Regions from separate parts of the Homo sapiens genome. Here regions 2, 3 and 4 are each linked to region 1. The links come from fine-mapping of genetic effects on gene expression. A gene starts in region 1. Each other region holds a variant in brackets. All regions are shown on one strand. Distances are from middle to middle.

What was found. PIP is the estimated chance that this variant, and not a neighbour inherited with it, causes the effect.
Region 2: its variant is fine-mapped to the expression of PAQR8 in whole blood (TOPMed, PIP above 0.99).
Region 3: its variant is fine-mapped to the expression of PAQR8 in whole blood (INTERVAL, PIP above 0.99).
Region 4: its variant is fine-mapped to the expression of PAQR8 in unexposed skin (GTEx, PIP above 0.99).

Annotation. Positions count from the first base shown.
Region 1 is chr6:52,359,754-52,364,904 of GRCh38, reverse strand. PAQR8 (progestin and adipoQ receptor family member 8) reads right to left here and starts at 2,754. Exons shown (of 2, transcript NM_133367.5): 1 at 2,656-2,754. RefSeq lists silencers at 2,502-2,991, 3,165-3,350.
Region 2 is chr6:52,391,109-52,396,259 of GRCh38, reverse strand. The region is part of intron 1 of PAQR8 (progestin and adipoQ receptor family member 8); the gene reads right to left. Among named protein-coding and RNA genes, the nearest start is that of EFHC1, 27 kb to the left of the region's middle. RefSeq lists an enhancer at 4,846-5,151. The variant T/C (reference allele first, on the strand shown) is at 3,223.
Region 3 is chr6:52,399,219-52,404,369 of GRCh38, reverse strand. PAQR8 (progestin and adipoQ receptor family member 8) reads right to left here. Exons shown (of 2, transcript NM_133367.5): 2 at 1-1,208. The coding sequence starts at 1,156. The coding sequence ends at 92. Among named protein-coding and RNA genes, the nearest start is that of EFHC1, 19 kb to the left of the region's middle. The variant A/G (reference allele first, on the strand shown) is at 1,987.
Region 4 is chr6:52,332,558-52,337,708 of GRCh38, reverse strand. No RefSeq gene overlaps it. Among named protein-coding and RNA genes, the nearest start is that of PAQR8, 27 kb to the left of the region's middle. RefSeq lists a cis regulatory region at 507 and an enhancer at 423-592. The variant T/G (reference allele first, on the strand shown) is at 2,048.

The sequences.
Region 1 (5,151 bases):
TTAAATGTTGTACTCAAAATTTCCACTGTGGAGATGATGGGAGCCCCTAACCCCGGTGTTATTCAGGGACCAACTGTAATTCCTTCCAATCCTAAATACATACTCCATGCCATTACTAAATGCCCCTTTTAGAACTGCCAGTCTTTCAAGAGAATTTTCATTACTTTAATGAGCATACTTATTGACAACCTCGATTCCCCACCTCGGAAGCCCAAGTTGGCCCCGCACAGTGCCTGGCTGTTTCCCAGCTGAGGAAGGTTTGCCACCACTGAGGCAATCAGGAAATGTGTTGCAAACTCGGAAGGCAACTCCAAAGCAGGAGCTCCAAAATTATTCTCAGTAGTGACAGCATCACTAGAATTAGTACACAGCTTGCCAAGAGCAGGCTTTTGAAGGGGAGAAATACTGATTTGAATGTATAAATACTGGCATATTTATTTTAACATTTGGATAAAGAATTGGAAGCATCAGCAAGTGTTACGTCCAAGTGAATAAGTACACTGCTGCAGGAATGATAGTGCAGATTTTGATGCAAGGTCCTGACCACTCAATAAGGTATACACACACCCTTAATGGAAATATGCTTATCCTGAAATGATTCTTGTAAAATGAATAAATCGCTTTCTATCCTGTTAACTTGCATAATTATTAAAGATTTCCTTTTCATGAATTAAAAACAGACCCAACAAATGCTAGTTGCCAAAATAATCCTTGTTTATCCAATGAAGCTCAAATCTCAGTGTGTGTCAGAAGATGGACCTATATGCACCAGAAGGAAATCTGGTGCATACACACACCCGCAAAAAAAAAAAAAAAAAAAACATATCTTTCAATGGATATATCCACTTAATAAGATTCCTCTACTCTGGGTCTTCCAGAATTGGTTGTTACGCCAAATAACTGAAATAATTACCATACATAATTAACAATACAAGATGGGTTAATGTAAGATAGTCAACATTTAACTAATAATTGAAGGACACGCACCCAAGGACAAACAGCAGAAATAAAAAACAAAAACAAAAACAAAGCCATGCCTTGGTCCTTTGTTTTTAGATACACACTTGGATACTCATCCACTGAGGTCCTAAGCAGTCTGGCTCCCTTCCAGTTGACCTGGTCAAGGGTGCAGCAGCTCAGGGCTGGGTACACGTTGTGGATAACCTTAACAGGGCAGTCAAGGGCAGTCTACCTTCCATGCAGGCAACTCCTATTAACTTCAGTAACAGGAGTCTTCACTGACAAGCAAATACTCCCAAACTGTACAATACTCTCATGTTTAACTCGACTGGAATGCAGTGCGTTTGTGGACATTGTTTGGTGTGTGTATTTGTTGTGGATTTTCCTCGTTTTTACCCAGAAACAGCTTCTCAGAGTACTGGAACAAGTAGTACACACGTGGGTCTAAAAATCACACATACAGTGTATTGTATGAGTTATCCCTAAGGCGCGCACACACACGGGTAGGTATTACCTGTACATTTGAAATCTCACTCCATAACTAATTTTTTTAGCCCAGGCTCTTCTCATTGGGTTCCTGGACAAAATCATTTCTAACCCAGCTAAGAAATATGGAATGCAACTTAGGTCAAGACAATGAGCCTGCCAAGGCTCCTGGACTTCCCACTAGTCTGCCAGTGCCTGGAGCACCCACAGCTGCACAGGAAGCTGCTGTGCCCGGCTACCTCCAGGTCCCCGCACCGGGTCGGCAAGGTGCAGCAGCCCCCAAACCCAGGCTCCGAATATTCCCCAAGCGCGCTGAGTGCGAGGTCCCCACCCGCCTCCGTCTGGGGATGCCCGGTCTTGCTCCCTAGACTAGATTCCCTCTCGAGTTATCTACGACCCTGTTCCACCGAGGGCGCTGCGTTCTCATAGCCTAGACAGACGTTCCCAGCGTTCCAGCCCCACCAGCCACCTCCGACACCCCACCGCGGCGTTCCCATCCAGCCAAGCCCCAGCATCCGCCCATTAGCCAGCTGCCGGCGGTTCCCATCACAACTCCGCTCCTCGCGCCCACCCTCTCAGAGAAGCCCCCTCCATCTTTCCCCGGCGAAAGCACATGCCTAGACCCACCCTACTCTTTCCGGGGTTCCCCTACCTCGGGCTGCCCTTCCTCGGGCTCTCCCTACCGCCCCGGGCTTCCTCTCCTCCGCACTCCCCTCCCAGGTTCCGTTCCCCTCCGCCCTGCGGAGGGCGCCCCACAAATGCGGACAGGACGCCCCTCGTTCTGCCCTGTCGGACTCCCCCACGTCTTGGTCCTGAATCTCCCGCCCTCCGGGCTCAGCCTTCCCAACATCGCGGTCCCCACACCCCCGCCAGCTCTCCAGGCTCAGGCTCCATGACTCCCCAGCATCGCAGTCCTGGCCACCCCACTACAGCCGTTCAGAGCTCCAGGGCTCCCCAGCATCCTAACCCGTCGTCCCCCCTTCCGGGCTTGGATTCGGAGACTCAACATCGGGGCCCTAAACTCCGGCCCCTGGCCTCAGGTTCCCAACGCTGCGACTCTGGACCTCCCCTCTGAGCTCGGGGTGCGAGGACTCCCCAACGCCGCGATCCTGACGTCCCCGCCTCCCGAGCTCGGGCCCCGGGGCTCCCCGACCTCGCGGTCCCAATACCCAACTCGACCCGTTCCGCGCCTCCCGCGGCGGGACTCACCGGCAGGGGCGGCGGCCGAGCCCGTGCGCGTAGCCCAGCCCGGCCCAGCCCGCGCTCCCGCCTCGGGGTCCCGGCCACGAGCTTCCCGCGGGTGGCTGTGACCGCGGCGGGCTCGGCTCGGGGGAGCGGCCGGGAGGAGGAGACCGCCGGGGGCGGGTGACGCCCAGCTCCGCCCCTTCCCGACCCGGGGGCGGGATGCGCAGACCCGCGCGCTCCGCTGCAGCCCGCGCCGCTGCCGCCGCTGCGAGGAAGTTGACTGACGCCGCTTCCTTCCACCCAGGACGCAGACCCTCGCAGTCCCTGGTAGCTGCAAAAAATCCGGAGAGTTTGAGACAGAGACGCCTTAACCGCCCTCATATTCTTTCCAAGAATTCACCTCTCAGGGGGCCATTTCCGAAGTCCCTCGGGAAGGGCGGAAAACAATAACAAACTTCATCTGCGCTGTCAAGACTGATTTAAATCCTGGCCTTTCTCTCACCACTCTCGGGTGAACGTTCAGGGTCATGCCCATGATATAAATAATGTGATGACATACCACGGAGGCCCTTGCAGACACTTCCACACCCCTAAGATACACCCGCCCAAGACTCGCGCCTCTCCCATGACTACATCACACAGACACATCTGACACTGACCTGCAGAAGATCCCACTTCTACCCTGTGTCCTCAATCCACAGCCTTCGTGGGTCCCAGCAATAGCGACCCACACATACAATCTATTGGAGGCAGGGTGCGGGGGTGGGTTCCACCTCCCGACTTGCTCCTCACCCACAATGTTCTCGGTATTTTACCATGAGAAAAAGACAGTTAAGAAGTTGGATGATCAATTAACAAATCAAGTTGGCTTTGCTTTTAAAAAGCCTTCTTCATTATCTGGAGAAAAGAGAAGGCCTGGGAAGATGGCCTGCTTACTGTAAGATTTTGTCAGACAGGCCTAATTCTGGTCTGCTTACTGTAAGATTTTCTCAGACGGCCTAATTCTGGTCTGCTTACTGTAAGATTTTCTCAGGCCTAATTCTGGTCTGCTGGTTCCCAAAACTTCTCTTATACCACCGTGTTTCAGTGACATGTTGCACAACATCTCACATTTGTACAATGTTTCCATTTTTCAAAACATTTTAGCCGAGTGTGATGGTTCACACCTGTAATCCCAGAACTTTGGGAAGCCAAAGTGGGCAGATTGCTTAAGCCCAGGAGTTCGAGACCAGCCTGGGTAACAAGGTGAGACCCTGTCTCTGCAAAAAATACAAAAATTAGATGGGCGTGGTGGCACACGCCTGTAGTCCCAGCTACTTATTCTCAGGCAAACATCACGAAGCAAAGAAAGTAATCTTAGCAGGATTATTTCAGTTCCATAAATGAAGACATTTAGACTCTGAGCAGTTGCACGGCAGGTTTGAAGCTGAGTCAGAGCCAGGAAAGAGCCCAGGGGCCTGTCTTTAGAGCCACTGATCTCCCCAGGGAATCATAGTCCAGCACTTACTTATAGGTGGATACTAGTGGAAATGTCACAGGAGGTCTTTGGCAGCTTTGCTCCCTCCATCTCTTCTTCACCCCAAAGATGTCAGGGAACTCTCCCTTAACCTCAAAAACCCGGGCTCTCCTTTATCGTCAAAAACCTATGATAGGCCAGAGGTCACAACCGTACAAGAGGGCTTATTGAGAGGGAGTGAAAACTCCTTCCACTTTGGGCCACTCTAGAAACAAAATTACAGGTTAGCACATCTAAAAGCCTATCCACAGCCTTCATCCAACTAACGTGAGCTGTCAGCCGGGAGCTGATGAGCCTCCGAAATGCATTGCTGATTATTTTTGCAGTGTTTTTCTCCCTAACAGTTAATCCATGTGGAATGTGAAGAAGTCTTAAAAGGAGACTAACAAGGCTTCTAATTCTTTCTCAATGGTAAATGTTCCTTTCTTCTTGCCCTTTATCCAAAAGGCAGATGTGAACGTGCATGTAAAGTGTAATGGGTGTCAGGCATTGTTATCTGTGCATGAGGCAGTTCTGTTTCCAAGTGACGCTGTCCAGAGCCACTAAATAAGAATGGTGGTTCTCATCCTTCATGCCTTTTAAAACTACCTTGGTCTCAAGCTAGCTTCTTTTATTTTCTACTGTGAGGTAATGGCCTACTTCCGTTTGGGCAGTAAAAGTGATGTTTTGGTAACACTGGAAAAAGTCCTAGGGTGACCTGGCTATTTTTGAATTATAATAAAAGCCTGTTGGGTCCTTCATAAAAGACAGTTAGGATGGCCTTTGGTATATGGAAATTCACAGCCAACTTTCCTCTATGTAATAATCCCATCTGGCAACACAATTTTGACCTGAGATTTTTCCAAAACCTGGAAACAGCCAAGATCTTGGGTACTGCAGTATTTCCTCAATAAGGAGAATGCTAAACTGCGAATCCAATCAACACGTATCAGACCTAGTTCCCTTTCAGATTGCCCTTGAAAGCCACAGACACAGGCAGTATGCAAAATGATGAAAAAATAGAT
Region 2 (5,151 bases), 31 kb before region 1:
GAAGCTTTTCTTAACTCCCAGACTGGCTTAGGGCTCTCTCCAGCCTTCATTAGACTCTGGCCTTGCCTCTCCCAGTTTTCTTCATTCATGGAGCTGGGTTCGTTTGTTTACTCCACTTACTTTCCCATTAGCCACCAGCTCCTTTAAAGGCAGGGACTGTTAGGTGCAGAAGTCCCCATGTTGAAAATAATATCTGGCATATAGAAGACACCTTATAATTATTTACTGAATGAACAGTTCTTTAGGCCCAGGCTCATGGCACCAATTTCTTTCTCTTCTGCAAAGGTGAAGGAAAAAAGAAGTAATGGTTTGGGAGTCAGGAAGTCTGGCTATTAGTATTTGCTCTACTCAGGTGTGTGGCTATGCCTAAGACAATCAATTACTCAGTGTCATTGTCCTCATAAAAAAGGGTGGGTGGGTGAGAGGAGGTGATTTCCTGTCTATCCACTTTTTAGGAAGAAAACAGAATGAATAATAACAAAATGGTCAGTAATGGAATAGTACTTTCAAGAGGCAAAACATGTACATAAAGTCCTAGTAATATTTCAAATAAAGAGCCCACTGAAGGATATAACTTAGTAAAAATAAATCTATCCACACGTATTTTCTACCTTATAATTGATTTTAATGCAATTTTTTAAAATCAAAAAGGAATATTATTTGTTTTGTAACACTCCTGGGAATCATCATAATACTGCCTCCCTGGGTCAGGTCTGGGCTGAAAGACATGTTTGAAAATGTTGAGTTTGAAGTGCCCATGGAGGACATTCATTTGGACACATCTAGAGCAGTGGGATATTTGAACTCCCCTATCTCCTTTAAGGATTTTTAATTAGAGTCAGATTATAATGGAATTGGAATTAAAAGTTCTATTTACTGAGTATATGTACCATGAATTCACTTAATGTTTATAAGAAAGTGTTAAAAAATGTTGAATAATGCCTTGCATTATGTAGGGATCTAATCTTTTTTTTTTTTTTTTTTTTTGAGACGAAGTCTCGCTGTGTCGCCCAGGCTGGAGTGCAATGGCGCAATCTTGGCTCACTGCAACCTCCGCCTCCCGGGTTCAAGCAATTCTCCTGTCTCAGCCTCCCAAGTAGCTGGGACTAAACTGCAGGTGCATGCCACTATGCCCAGCTAATTTTTTGAATTTTTAGTAGAGACAGAGTTTTACCATATTAGTCAGGCTGGTCTCAAACTCCTGACCTCAGGTGATCTACCCACCTCAGCCTCCCAAAGTGTTGGGATTACAGGCGTCAGTCACTGTGCCCGGCCGGGATCTAATCTTAAAAATTTATCTTAGAAGCGCCTTTCAAATTTTTTTTTTAATGGAAAGAGAAAAATGGGGTAAAAATCCCAAGTTCATGGTTAAAAATCTGACATTTTAGCCAAAAATTGTGCATTTAGGTGTTCTTTTTAAAAGTAAATCACAGAACTAAGCTAAATACAGATGTTCCTTGACATATGATGGGTTATAGCCCAGTAAACCCATTGTTAAGTTGAAAACGTCTTAAGTTGAAAATGCATTTAATGCACCTAATCTACTGAACGTAACCACTCTTAGCCTACACTACCTTAAATGTGCTCAGAACACACACTTAGCCTACAGGTGGGGAAAGTCATCTGGCAACAGAGGACACCGTAGGGTACTGGTTGTTTTGAGATCACATGGCTGACTGGGAGCTGCAGGTTACTGCTGCTGCCCAGAATTGCTAGAGTATTTCACCACCTATCACTAGCCTTGGAAAAAATCAAAACCCCAAATGCAAAGTATGGTTTCTATTGAATGTGTATCACTTTCACACCATCCTAAGTTGGGGATCATCTGTATTCTTAAGGTTTGGTTTTGTTTTCGTAGTTCTGACTGATGGAAACTACCTAAAATGCATTTCCTTTTCAGTAACTTTCAATAAAACAATGAAATGACACGTTTTTGGTGATAGTTGTTATCCCCTGAAAACACAGTAAAAATACGTGAAGTACCCATAAAAGACCATTTAACTTTCAGAGAGGAACTATATCGATAAGCAGAGCAGCACCTGGGCACGTCTCCTATCACCTGAGAAACAGGTGTAACCGTGTCACTGCACTCACTGCTCCTGGCCAACTCCTCCATCTGCTGGGTTCCCTCTCATTGGCCCCTGTCTGAATTTGAGTCCTTATTATCTCTCACAGGAACCTCTGTAGGATACAGGAGGCCTTCCTGGTCCCCTACCTGTGCGTCTCTTTAACTGTCCCCAAAGCATCTCCCACTCTGACACTTTGTGTTCCAGTTATTCTGCCATCCTCTCAGGACTTTGTGCTTCTATGCATGCCTGGAATGCCCACACCACTGATGTCCACTGGCCAACTCCTACTCATGCTTCATGTCCCATCTCAAATGGTCCCTGTGAAGGCTTCCCCTCAGGTGCTCCTTCACCTAACTGCCACTGCACTTAAAGTCCTTCATTATAGGACTTTCCTTACTGTATGCCTACATGGTTTGCATTATATGTCTCTCTGACCACTAAACTGCAAGATCCTTTGAGGGCTGAGAATATTTTTATCATTAGCATTGTGCCTATCACATTGATATTCCAAGAAATCACTGAATGAACGAATGAATGAATGAATGGAAAGTGTCCAAATCGACCAGGTACAGTGGCTCACACCTGTAATCCCAGCACTTTGGGAAGCCGAACGGGGAGGATAGCTTGAGCCCAGGAGTTCAAGACCAGCCTTGGCAACACAGCAAGACTCTATCTCTAAATTTAAAAATTAGCCAGGCATGGTGGCGCACACCTGTAGTCCCAATTACTCAGGATGCTGAGGTGGGAGGATCACTTGAGCCCAGGAGATTGAGGCTACAGTGAGCCATGGTTATGCCACTGCACTCCAGCCTGGACAACAGAGCAAGACGCCGTCTCAAAAAAAAAAAAAAAAAAAAGAGAGAGAAAGTGTCAGAATAATAGTATCAAACACTTATATGATGTTTAGCACATACCAGACAGTGTTTTGGGTGCTTTGAAAATATTAACTTATTTAAACTTCCCAACAATACCTGACACCAGTACTATTATCATTCCCATTTCACAGATAAGGAAACAGTTACAGAGAGATTACATAACTTGTCCAAGGCTGCACAGTATGTGATAGATCCAGGAGGTGACTAAGCAGTTGACTCTAAAGTCTGCGTTCTTAACCACTATGCCTCAAAAAATGCCCTCTATGACTAAACCCCAA[T/C]ATTTTTTGATATACAACTTCAAATATGCTGCTGCAATACTGCTTTGCTTCATTAACAAAAATAACTTGCAGTTGGCCTTACAAAAACAATCAGTACTGCAAAGTTTCTCAGATCTTTGACACTGAGTTTACTTGTAAATCAGATTCCAATACTCCCTAAGAGAATAAAATGTGACTTCCACAAAATCTGAGTGGAATCTATCAAATAATCCAAATAGGTCTATTAGCCCAGATAAATATGATCATAAATCTGATGGGCTTCTTTCATATTAAAGAGACACATGGTTTGTTGTGGCTAGCTTTACAGAACTGGTGTAGTGAGACATTCCAATCATAAACCTGAGGTCATTTATCAGCCTACTAATGGAAAGCACAATGACAATGAGATCACTAAATCTGCTATGCATATAGCAAGCTACCTAAAAAGCCTTTCCCAAATTAACAAAGTGGGGAATTAAAGAAAAGCTCCATATTTGGGAAACTGGCATTGTTTGGTACTGAAGACATTTTATCTGGATGACAAATAGAAGCACTCCAAAGCAATAGTGTTTCCTGACCTATTACAAGGATGCTATGTGAATCTACCACAAACTTGGAATAGCTGATTCCCTGGAAAGAACACTGGGCAAGAAATTAGAAGTCCCAATGTTTAGTTCTAGCTCTATCACTATGTGACACTTTTTTTTTTTTTTTTGAGATGGAGTCTCGCTCTGTCACCCAGGCTGGAATGCAGTGGCGCGATCTTGCCTCATTGTAACCTCCGCCTCCTGGGTTCAAGCAATTCTCCCGCCTCAGCCTCCCGAGTAGTTGGGACTAAGGGCGCACACTGCCACACCCAGCTAGTTTTTTTTGCATTTTAGTAGAGACGGGGTTTCACCGTGTTGCCCAGGCTGGTCTCGAACTCCTGAGCTCAGGCAATCTGCCCGCCTAGGCCTCCCAAAGTGCTCTAAGTGATTTTTAAGCAAATTATTCAACCTCTCTATGCCTTGGTGCCCTTGTCCTTAAGATGGGGGTGTAATCTATATAAGCTCTAATACTGTAAAATTCTGTAATTCATCTGGGCTATGTTTTGCTTTGTACTGAACATCAAGCAGCATGCTGGAATCACCAACAAACAGATCCTGTGACATCACTTCATGTCACTGTGTGTGGGACTCACACAGATGGTAGGAAAGTGACCTGCTGGTTGTTGGATAGAGGACAAATGAGCAGCAATTCCTATCAAAGGCAAAAGAAATGCTTCCAGAATTCACAGAAGCCCAGCTTCACACATCACTGCATAATTATAAATGGCTGCAAAGGAATAGCAGCCAAAATGACAACTTGGTGTCCATTTATAAGGACTGGAACTGTGCTTTAAGCAGCCTTTGAGCCAGAGGTGGAGTTGGAAACAGTCTCACATGCCTCAGGATCTCCATAGTCGTTAAGTGAGAGAACTCTGGGCTCATACTGATCTTTATAGCTACATCTTCCAAGGAGCATATCACTATTTGTAAAGTCATATTTGAAAGAATGGCACTACCAGTGCAATCCTGTTATTAGCAGAGATCATTTGAACATCGATTCAGATTCACCAATGGTCAGTGCATATTTCCTCCCTATATTTAACAAAACCTAACAAACAGAATTTCGACATCCAAAAATGGAGTATTTGATTGTGTAAATTAAGATAAATCTATAAAATAGAATACTATGCACTTATTAAAATAACTAGCATATTTACATTTATTGTTATACAAAGATACACATGATATGTGAGCTCCATTGGTTTTTCACTGTAGTCTCCACTGCACTTAGAAAAGTGATGGACTAGCACATTGTACATTCTCAAAAAAGATTTCTTGAATGAATAAATGAGTCAAAGACATGTAAAGGAAAAAACAAATTTAAAGTATGTGTTCCGCCCAGCCCTATTTTTGTAATCATACA
Region 3 (5,151 bases), 39 kb before region 1:
AAAGCCAATGCCTTAAAAGTCAGCTTCTATTGTATCAAGTTTTCTCCAAATTATGAGGGGCTTCCTCCACACGTTGCCCCACTTGCCAGCCTCAGGAATCTTTCTTGGTCAGTCTGGCCTTGACTTTGTGCCTCAGAAGGGCTGCGGTGGCAGCACTGCAGGCAGCCAGGAAGAAGAAGGAGAGGCAGGCCATGTGGACAGATAGGGGTCCATGGCGCTGCAGGAAGATCTCCTGCCGCCCCTGGTAGTCCAGGAGGATGGCCTCCAGCTGGGAGAGCGTACAGATGGACAGAAATGCATGGAAGATCTGATGCCCATGGCCCACGATGTCACAGGAACCCGGGAAGTACTTCTCAGGCACGGGGCAGGAGAAGAAATAAGCGCTAACCAGGAAGAAGAGGATCTGGAGGGTGTGGTACCAGGCTGCTTGCTCCTGGCAGCCAGCCAGGTGACAGAGCGCCACACGGTGTGCCACAGGGCTGATGTCTAGGATAAAAGCCAGACCTGCTGGCACCACTTGACAGATCTTCCTCATGACTGGATAAGGCCTCCGGTAACGATATTTGGCATAGCAACAGCCAGCACAAGATAACCAGCCACAGAAGGCAGCTGCTGGCAAGAAGAAAAGCCAGAACCGGTCATACCAGGCCTGGTCAGAGCTGTAGAAGAAATGAGCCAAAGCACTGCCATATTGGTAAACGCTCACGCCAACATAGTCCACAAAGTAGAAGGTGTAGTGGGAGAGCTCTGACTTGGACTGCAGCAGGTGGGCCAGAAGGCTGCAGGTGAGGTAAGTGATTGACGACAGGATGAAGAGGAGCAGAGGCAGGGAGTGGGTAGACGCCCATGGCAAGGCCTCAGCCTCGGCAAAGGCCCAGAATCGCAAGAGGACGGCCAGGGCTGCCAGTAAATGGGTCCAGACGTTGACCACCTCGTTGTGTTTCTGAAAGAGGCTGAAGAAGTAGTAGCGCCACTCGTGCCCCGTGGGGCGGTAGCCGGTGCGGATGTAAGGCTCCCGGAAGAGCTGGGGCACATCCGTTTCTGGGACAGTGCAAGGCATCTTGGGAAGCCCATCCTCCAGGATCTTGGGCAGGCGGCGCAGCTGCTGCCCGCTGACCGACAGGGTGCTCAGGCGCTCCAAGATGGCGGTCGTCATGGCAGCGGCCCGCATGCACTCCGTGCCGCGCCCTCAGGACAGGGTATGCAACCTGCAGAAAAGAAAGGAAAATTGGCAAAGCCGCAGTGAGACACGAATGCAGCTAAGACGGACAAGGAACTATGGCTATTTTCTTTTCTTTTGAGACGGGGTATCACTCTGTCGCCCAGGCTAGAGTGCAGTGGCACGATCACAGCTCATTGCAACCTCTAATTCCTGGGCTCAGGTGATCCTCCAGAGTAGCTAGGACCATAGATGCACGCCAACACGCCCGGATAATTTTTTGTTGCTGCTGTTGTTGTAGAGACAGGGGTGTCGCTATGTACAGCAGGCTGGGCCCAAACTCCTGGGCTCAAGCACTCCTCCCTCCTCAGCCTCCCCAAGTGTTGAGATTACAGGCGTGAGCCACCAGGCCGGCTAGGATCCGTGGTTATTTTAATGCAACGTGGCTTTCTGGTACAGTAGAGGAAGCAAGGAGCTGCAGACAGCTTCTTTGAGCCTCCTTTAATTCATCTGTAGAATAATGGAGTTGGACCAAGATCCCTTACTGTCCCAATATTCTTTTTTTTCTTTCTTTCTTTTTTTTTTTTTTTTTTGAGACAGAGTTTCACTCTTGTTGCCCAGGCTGGAATGCAATGGTACCATCTCGGCTCACCACAACCTCCGCCTCCCGGGTTCAAGCAATTCTCCTGCCTCAGCCTCCCAAGTAGCTGGGATTACAGGCATGTGCCACCACGCCTGGCTAATTTTGTATTTTCAGTAGAGATGGGGTTTCTCCATGTTGGTCAGGCTGGTCTGGAACGCCCGACCTCAGGTGATCCGCCCACCTC[A/G]GCCTCCCGAAGATTTTTTTTGAAACAGGGTCTTGCTCTGTCGCCCAGCTGGGATGCAGTGGCGCAATCTTGGTTCACTGCAACTTCCGTCTCCCGGGTTCAAGCAATTCTCCTGCCTCAGCCTCCCAAGTAGCTGGTATTACAGGCATGCACCACCACACCCAGCTAATTTTTATATTTTTAGTAGAGATGGGGTTTCACCATGTTGGCCAGGCTGGTCTCGAACTTCTAACCTCAAATGATCTTCCCACCTCATCCTCCAAAAGTGCTGGAATTACAGGCGTTAAGCCACCATGCCTGGCCTGTCCCAATATTCTATGTTTACTACACTCAGTGTGAGGCAAAGTTACATCTTGTAAAATGGAAATGTTAGCTACCCTAACATAATTTAGTGATACCAATGACTTAATGATTATCAAGATTTAATTATAAGTAAGGTAACCTTTAAAGGATATGGGCTTTTCTCGATATTAAAATGTAATAAACAGGCTTTAATAGCATGAAATATCATATTGAAGTATAAGAATTACAAATATTGATATAGCTAATGATAGACTGTATTTCTTTAGCACCTACCTAATCTTAAACTATCCACTAATTTCACTGGTACTTTGAAAATATGAGGTGAGCAACTGACTAAGCCTCATATTTAAGACAGGCAAATTGACTCGTCAGTTAGGTTGGTAAAGAACAATGCACATTCTAGGATATCCTAACAGTTAAAATTAACATGTGACCTAAATTTAACATAAAATCTCATTGCAAAGACTGTTGTTCATTTTTTAAATTATGCTCTGAAAAGCAAGTAGTTTTAGATTTGCTTCTCTTGGGTAATTAAAACTGCACTCGGTGAATTTCAGGCTTCAGAAATGCTTAACTTACACTTGTATTTCTCAGTGACAGACGAATACAGCAATTATTTCATAAAATATTTCATGAAACTGCTGCAAAATTTCATCTGAAGTTGCTAGGTAAAGAAATAGATTTTGATCATTTCTAGTTACCTTATGTAATTATGTTTCCCAAGCTTTTTTCTTCAGAAAAATTTAATATCTGATTTATCTAAATGGAGCACATACAGCAAGCACATACAGCAAGTACTGGAGCACATACAGCAAGTACTGTTCAAGGTGCTTACTAATTTTAGCAAAGAAAATGTAATTCCTACTCATACGTCTCAATCAATATTGGAAGAGAAAAAATACCTAATCAGGTAAAAAAGTGTAGGGCATGAAAATTAATAAAATGTAAAGAAGTTCAGGGAGACCTGGAGTCAAGCTCCAGTTTTGCCACTTACTGGGGTGACCTTGGGCAAGTTATAGAATTCTCTCAGCCTCAGTTTCTTCATAATTCTATATATTATATGGGTTGTGTGATAGTTAAATGAGAGGGTCTAAAAAATGAAGTGCTTAGCACTCTGCCCAGCCCAAGGTAAGTGCGTAGTAAATGTGAAATATTGCTGTCATTTTTATTGCTATGAGCTGGGCTCTGTGCTAGGTACTAGGTACTAGGGATACAAAGACTGGTAAGATACACTTCCTGCCTTCAAAGAGATCAAAGTTTACTGGGGAGACAGACATGTAGGGGAATCAACACAAAAATGTGCAATAAGTGCTCCATTAGAGACAAACACTGGTTCACAGAGGTCTCAGCAAACAACCAAAACAGGGAAAGGATGGGGGTATAGCCCTCTTGAAGTGACCCTGAACTGAATCTTGAAGGAAAAATCAGAATTCCTGAGAAAAGATAAAGGCGGAAGAGACTTCTAGGCAGAGAGCAAGGTCAAAGAACTTCTGCCAAGATATGGGCTTGGAAAGCCTGGAGTATCTGAAGTCATTGTAGTTTGCAGTTATGACATTGGTGCCAGAGAGACCTGAACTCACATCCTGAGCCCCACCATCAACAAGCTGCATGAATCCAGCCTGAGCTTTGTTATCTGTGGAGTAAATGACAGAGAAGCTGCCTTACAGGGCTGAAAAAGAACTATATGACATAATGGCTGTAAAGTGTTTAACAAAGTGCTTGGTTCCAAGTCTGCATAACTACTTGCCATTATTATGACCATCACTGATATGAGATGCAGGAATCATTCATGAGTTCAGGGCCTAATGTCCCCTCCATACCTTGAACCTATTTCTATGGCAGCCCCTGTAACCCTGTATTGAGGCATTCATTTAGCCAGCACCCATCAGACAGTGGTCTTCTACCAGGAATGGGCTATGAACTCAAGCTCAATGTAGGAATTAAAGACACCAAGAGAAGTGTATTAAGGATTACAGTCAGCCAGAAAGAGAAACACAGAAAGAGGGAGTGTGGGAGAGAGAAAGAAAATGCTAATTAGAATACCTGAATTCATTTGAAAACAAAAAGAAAAGAAAAAGCTAAGTGGTGCTTCTGCTATCAGCCAGCAGAGGGATCCGAGTGCCTTAGAGTTCAGTTCTGGATGGAAGTTTCTCCAACTGACCTTGGTGGACGAACTACAGGAATGGGCCTGGGATGTGGGATAACTTCTCAAGTTGCCCTGTTGCTGTTAGCAACATATAATCTGGGGGTGCTGGGCTTGTTGGAGTTCTGGGGAATTAAAGTGCTCTATTCTTTAGATATAGTCTTCTACTACCTCTTGTGAAGTAGAGAGCAAACCAGATGAAATTACCAGTCTGATTTTATGGCTGGGAGAAATCAAGGTGAGTCACTGGGTATAACCCCAGTGACTATAGAAGAAGGAATCCCCAAAGATGCTCCCAGTATCCCTGTCTGCATGCTGTCTAAAATCAAGGCTATTTCTCTCATCTTTGGGAACCCAAACCAATCAGACGATTCCTGCATCCAGAGTTAAATAATATATAACCACACAATTCCTACTAATCTTCATATCCTTAAAATAGCGTATCCATCACATAGCAGGTTCTTATAAACTGACAACTCAACTGAATTTCTAAAGACTAAAACTTTGGGTTTTAGTAGTTTAGCGATTGGAAGAGAGCACAATTCAGACCTGGGAACTAACTGGCATCTGTCTGTTCTGAGGGAGAAAGGACGGAACATGATACTGCCTTATTATTGGTCTGCAGAAGACCATGACTGCAGAGCTCTGACAGTTCCTTCTATTTCTCATATCACCAGCCTCCCTCATGACTTTATGTTGACAAGTTATTTTCTGGAAAT
Region 4 (5,151 bases), 27 kb after region 1:
ATTACACTTCTTACAGGTCTCCAAAAATGCCATGTGCTATTTTCTCTAAGCCTTTGCTTACCATTTCTCACTGCATGAAACATTCTTCACCCCTCCCCTTATCATTGCCTGGCCTTGTATCTTTTGGGTCTCCATGTAGATTATACACTCTGGAAAGCCTTCCATGACACCAACTTAGATTGTCCCCTCTATGGGCTTTAAGAGCGTGTGGTACAGCCCCTTTCTGTAGTTCCAATAGCACTGTATTGTCATTACCTACTTACTTTTCTCTTATGAAACTATAAGCTTCTTGAAGATAGGGATGGTGTCTAGCCACTTTCTTAGCACAGTGTTTAGTAAATGGAAGATGCTTAGTAAGCATTTGTTAAATGAATGAGGAGTGAGTGTTAACTTATTTCTCTCTCAGTTCAAACTCCTTTGCTTCTAAGTGTCAGAAAGCCCAATCCAAAGAGCTTAAGCAAAAAGAGGAATTCGCGGCTCATATAAGCAAAGAAGTCTAGAGGAGTGTCGTGCCCATCATTGAACCAATCGTTGTTCTTTCAGGAGAATGCAAGGCTCTGATTGGCCAAACCTGGGTCACATGTCACCCCCATTTCTGCTGTCCCAAGACCACTCAGGCTGGGGATGAGGGATGGTGCTGGAAGTGGGAAGGGGCGGGGTCTCCAAACTACAGTCCTGAACTTTCCCTGGAATTTTGGTGAGGGGATCCTGGGTAACCCTCAAAAACAAATTTCTATTAAGTAATGCCTACAATTCAGGGGGATAGGGATAACACAGATCCAGCAAAGAAATTCTAGGTTAAGCAGTCTGAGAAATGGGCAAAGAGCTAAGAATGTATAGTGTCATGCAAGGAAAGGTGACTAATATTTGTTTAGCACTGACCATGTGACAGGAGCTTTTCACACGATATATCATTTAACCCTCACAATAACTCTCAAATACATAGTTATTCCCAGTTAACAGAATCTTAGGGTAAACTGAGTCTCAGAGGGAATATGTAACTCACTTAGGCCACACAGTTCCTGGTGTCAAAAAAGGTTAGGGACTGCTTCATTAAAGGAACAAGGCTTTATTCATTTTTGTCTCCAGCGTAGGAAAGGGCCTTACTCATACTGTTCATCACTAAATATTTGTTAAATTAATGAATGAATAATTAATTGCATGAGCAAAAGATGAAAAACTGTATCCCAGGAAGAAATGAAGGTAGAGAAAGAACAGTAGGGGTGGGTTAGATTCAAACATGTTTTTAGGGCAGGTGGAAAGAGGTTGAAAATGAAAGAAAATGTTGATGATGAAGCAATGTTCCCTATGCAGTTCAAATTCTAGGAAAAAGCCTTAGATAAAAAATTTCAATATTTCTTCCCCCAGAGTGAGAGAGAGAGAGAAAAGTATGGCCTTGGGAGAGTCTGGGGTAGAGGGAAGAAAACCAAAAGCATTCTTTTCAGCTTCCTCGGTCTTCACTGTGAAAAAGTAAAGGTTCTCATTTCTACAACTGTGTCGAGTATACGCTGACCTGATGTTTTAATTCATGGCTCATCCTCACAGTACCAAGCATAGAATAGATGCTAAAATAAATGTATAAACTCACTGGGTTGAACTGAATGAAATCAAATTATCTTTTAGAAAAATTTGAATGTAGCCTTCAGAAAGGGCAGCTACCTATAAGCCTAATTTGATGGCTTGCCAGGACTTTGGTAGGTGCTGTGGGAAGATGGAGGAAGGCAGTACAATGTGCCCATGTTATCTGTTCTACAGAATATCTTTGCTGGGCAAATATCTCCTTATCATTTTCCTTTTTCAATGCAAGCTTCCACCCTACTTCTTCAGGACACCTGGGCTTGGGCAGTGATTACTAGGTTGACTGTTTGTAATAACAGGTCTGTCTTGGGAAATTATAGGCTGTGAGGTCTCAGAGGTTAGCAATCAGAAGAGATTTACTAAGCCTTCTCTGACCAGTTCCAGGGCTGTCCTCCTTAGCAGACTGACTCAGCCAGCAGTGCCACCTGTGAAACAGGTGGCAAGGCTGGTCACACTGCCTCTTTCCACA[T/G]GCTATTCTGTCCACTCCCTAAGGGTCCCTGACACCAGCTGAGAGAGTGAAGCCTTGGCCTGCTGGGGATGCCTCCAGCTGCAGAAGGCAGCCTGACCTTGAATTCAAGCAGGCTTTAAATTCTTCGCCTCACAGAATGAGGTAACAGAAAGATGGATGATTACTGATTAGAACACTGTGACCTAAAAAAATTAAGTAATCCACAGTGAAAACTCATTCCCCTGTCTCTGTTTAGTCTCTGACAGGAATAAAGGATGGGATAAAGGGTAGGATAGGGAATGGGGTGGTGGCATCAGAGAGCCCCCTTTGGCCACCAGTAGGTGCCTTTATTGATGTGTTCCCATGAGAAGGAACAAAGAAAAGGGGTTGGAATAAAAAAGAAGAAAATCCTGTCATTCATGGCATAGATGAGCCTGGAGGACTTTATGTTAAGTGAAATACACCAAGCACTGAAAGACAAATACCGCATGATCTCACTCATGTGGGAGATAAAATAAATTTTTTGAGCCCATGGAAGTAGAGAGTAGAATTGTGAGTATTAGAGGCTGGGAAGGGTGGGTGAGGGAGGGGAGGAGGGTGAGAGTTCTGGTGCTTTGCGAATGTGGTTAATTATAATTTATTGTATATTCTCAAAAAGCTACAAGATGATTTTGAATGTTCACAACACAAAGAAATGGTAAGTGTTTGAAGTGATGATATGCTAATTACCCTGATTTGATCATTACTCATTGTATGCATGTATTAAAATAGCACTCCAGCTGGGTGCGGTGGCTCACGCCTGTAATCCCAGCACTTTGGGAGGCTGAGGCAGGCTGATCACAAGGTCAGGAGATTGAGACCAACCTGGCTAACATTGTGAAACCCCGTCTCTACTAAAAATACAAAAAATTAGCTGGGCATGGTGATGCGTGCCTGTAGTCACAGCTACTCAGGAGGCTGAGGCAGGAGAATCGCTTGAACCCGGGAGGCGGAGGTTGCAGTGAGCTGAGATTGCACCACTGCACTCCAGCCTGGGTGAAAGAGCGAGACTCCATCTCAAAAAAAAAAAGAAAAAGAAATAGCACTCCATATCCCATCAATTTGTACAATTATTACATGACAACTAAAAATAAAAGGAAAAAGCAAAGCAAAGAGGCTGGAGAGAAAGGAGTGTAATTCCATCCCTTTGTGGTAGTGGGGGTCCAGTAGGAGGCTGGGCTAGGCAGGGAAGCAAGGAACTCACTTGCCCAACTCCAGGGATTTCAGATCTTCCTGTTTGTACAAGCAGGTGGTTTATTTCTAAATAAGCTATTTTGGATTCTTACTTTGCATAGAGTTTGTACATGTTTTCTGCAAAAGCCCAGGCAGAGGCCTCTGGGAGGGGAGTTTGGTGATGAAGTCAGCCAGAATGAGGCTTTTGATATATGGAACTTTTGCCTGATTTCAAGCAATATATCTTCTGCTCCCTTTATTCTTTCCACTTTCTCAGCTCCACCAGCCACATGGTTTTCTTTTTTATCCAACAGGTATAGGTGAATCAACTGCCTCTCTATGGTAGAGTGTCTATTATTCTAACAAGGGCCAGCCCCAGGAAAAACTGCAGCAGTTGAAGTTCAGCTTCTCCTCTTCCTCCCTACCCTACCAACTCTGTAGCACAATCTAGTTGTCAAGGAACCCAAAACATTTGTGGTTTAATGTGTGACCTTTCTCACAGTGTTTTCATCCTGATAGGCCTGTTACATTTTGCTTTCCTGTGCATTTTCTCATTTGGCCAGCAACCCTGTGAATAAAACACTCGTGAGCATTATCTCCCAAAAGGTATTTTGGACCACTTATGAAATTAACTGTCATCTTCTGAGAGCTTGCTACCTGCCAGTCACTGTGCTGAATGCCTTACATACCTCAACTAATCGTCATAATCACTGTGAAGCTGATACTCTTATCCCTAATTTCCAGAGGAGAAAGCTAGGTATACATAACTTGCCCAAGGTCACACAGCTAACTAGCGGCAAAATCAGGATTAAAGCCTGGGTCTGACCAAGTCCAAATCCTGTGCTCTTATCTCTTTCACCATTCTGCCTGTGCAGAAGGCAGGACAGGTATTAGTATGCCTGTTTTCTTTGTCTTTTCTTTCTTTCTTTCTTTCTTTCTTTCTTTCTTTCTTTCTTTCTTTCTTTCTTTCTTTTTCTTTCTTTCTTTCTCCTTCCTTCCTTCCTTCCTTCCTTCCTTCTTTCTCTCTCTCTCTCTCTCTCCTTCCTTCCTTCCTTCCTTCCTTCCTTCCTTCCTTCCTTCCTTCCTTCTCTCTCTCTCTCTCTCTCTCTCTCTCTCTTTCTCTCTTTCTCTCTTTCTCTCTTTCTCTCTTTCTCTCTTTCTCTCTTTCTTTCTTTCTTTCTTGAGACGGGGTGTCACTCCATTGCCCAGGCTGGAGTGCAGTGGCTCAATCCTAGCTCACTGCAGCCTCGACCTCTTTAGCTCAAGCAATCCTCCCACCTCAGCCTTCTGAGTAGTGGGGACTACAGGTATACATCACCATACCCGGCTAATTTTTGTATTTTTTTTTAGAGATAGCGTCTTGCTATGTTGCCCAGGCTGGTCTTAAACTCCTGGGCTCAAGCAATTCTCCCACCTTGGCCTCCCAACGTGCCGGAATTGCAGGTGTGAGCAGCTGCACCTAGCCATATGCCCATTTTCTAAAGAACTTTTTCTCTTTTAAAATGGAATTTCAGAGAACTATTTCACAGAACTCCCAGTGGCAGAGTTGGGGCTAGAGCCCCTTTAATAGATGACGACAGAAGAAAAATTCCTACCTCCTGATTGGGCCACCATGTAGGCTTCTAGGCACAGTAATAGGAAATGTAAAAACCTTCCTGTACCTCTCACATCATGTAGTCAGCACCTGACTCTTACTTCATAAATTGAGTCCACGTGGGGCGTGGTGGCTCACTCCTGTAATCCCAGCACTTTGGGAGGCTAAGGCGGATCGATCACAAGGTCAGGAGATCAAGACCAGCCTGGCCAACATGGTGAAACACCATCTCTACTAAACATACAAAAATTAGCCGGGCGTGGTGGTGTGTGCCTGTAATCCCAACTACTCAGGAGGCTGAGGCAGAGAATTGCTTGAA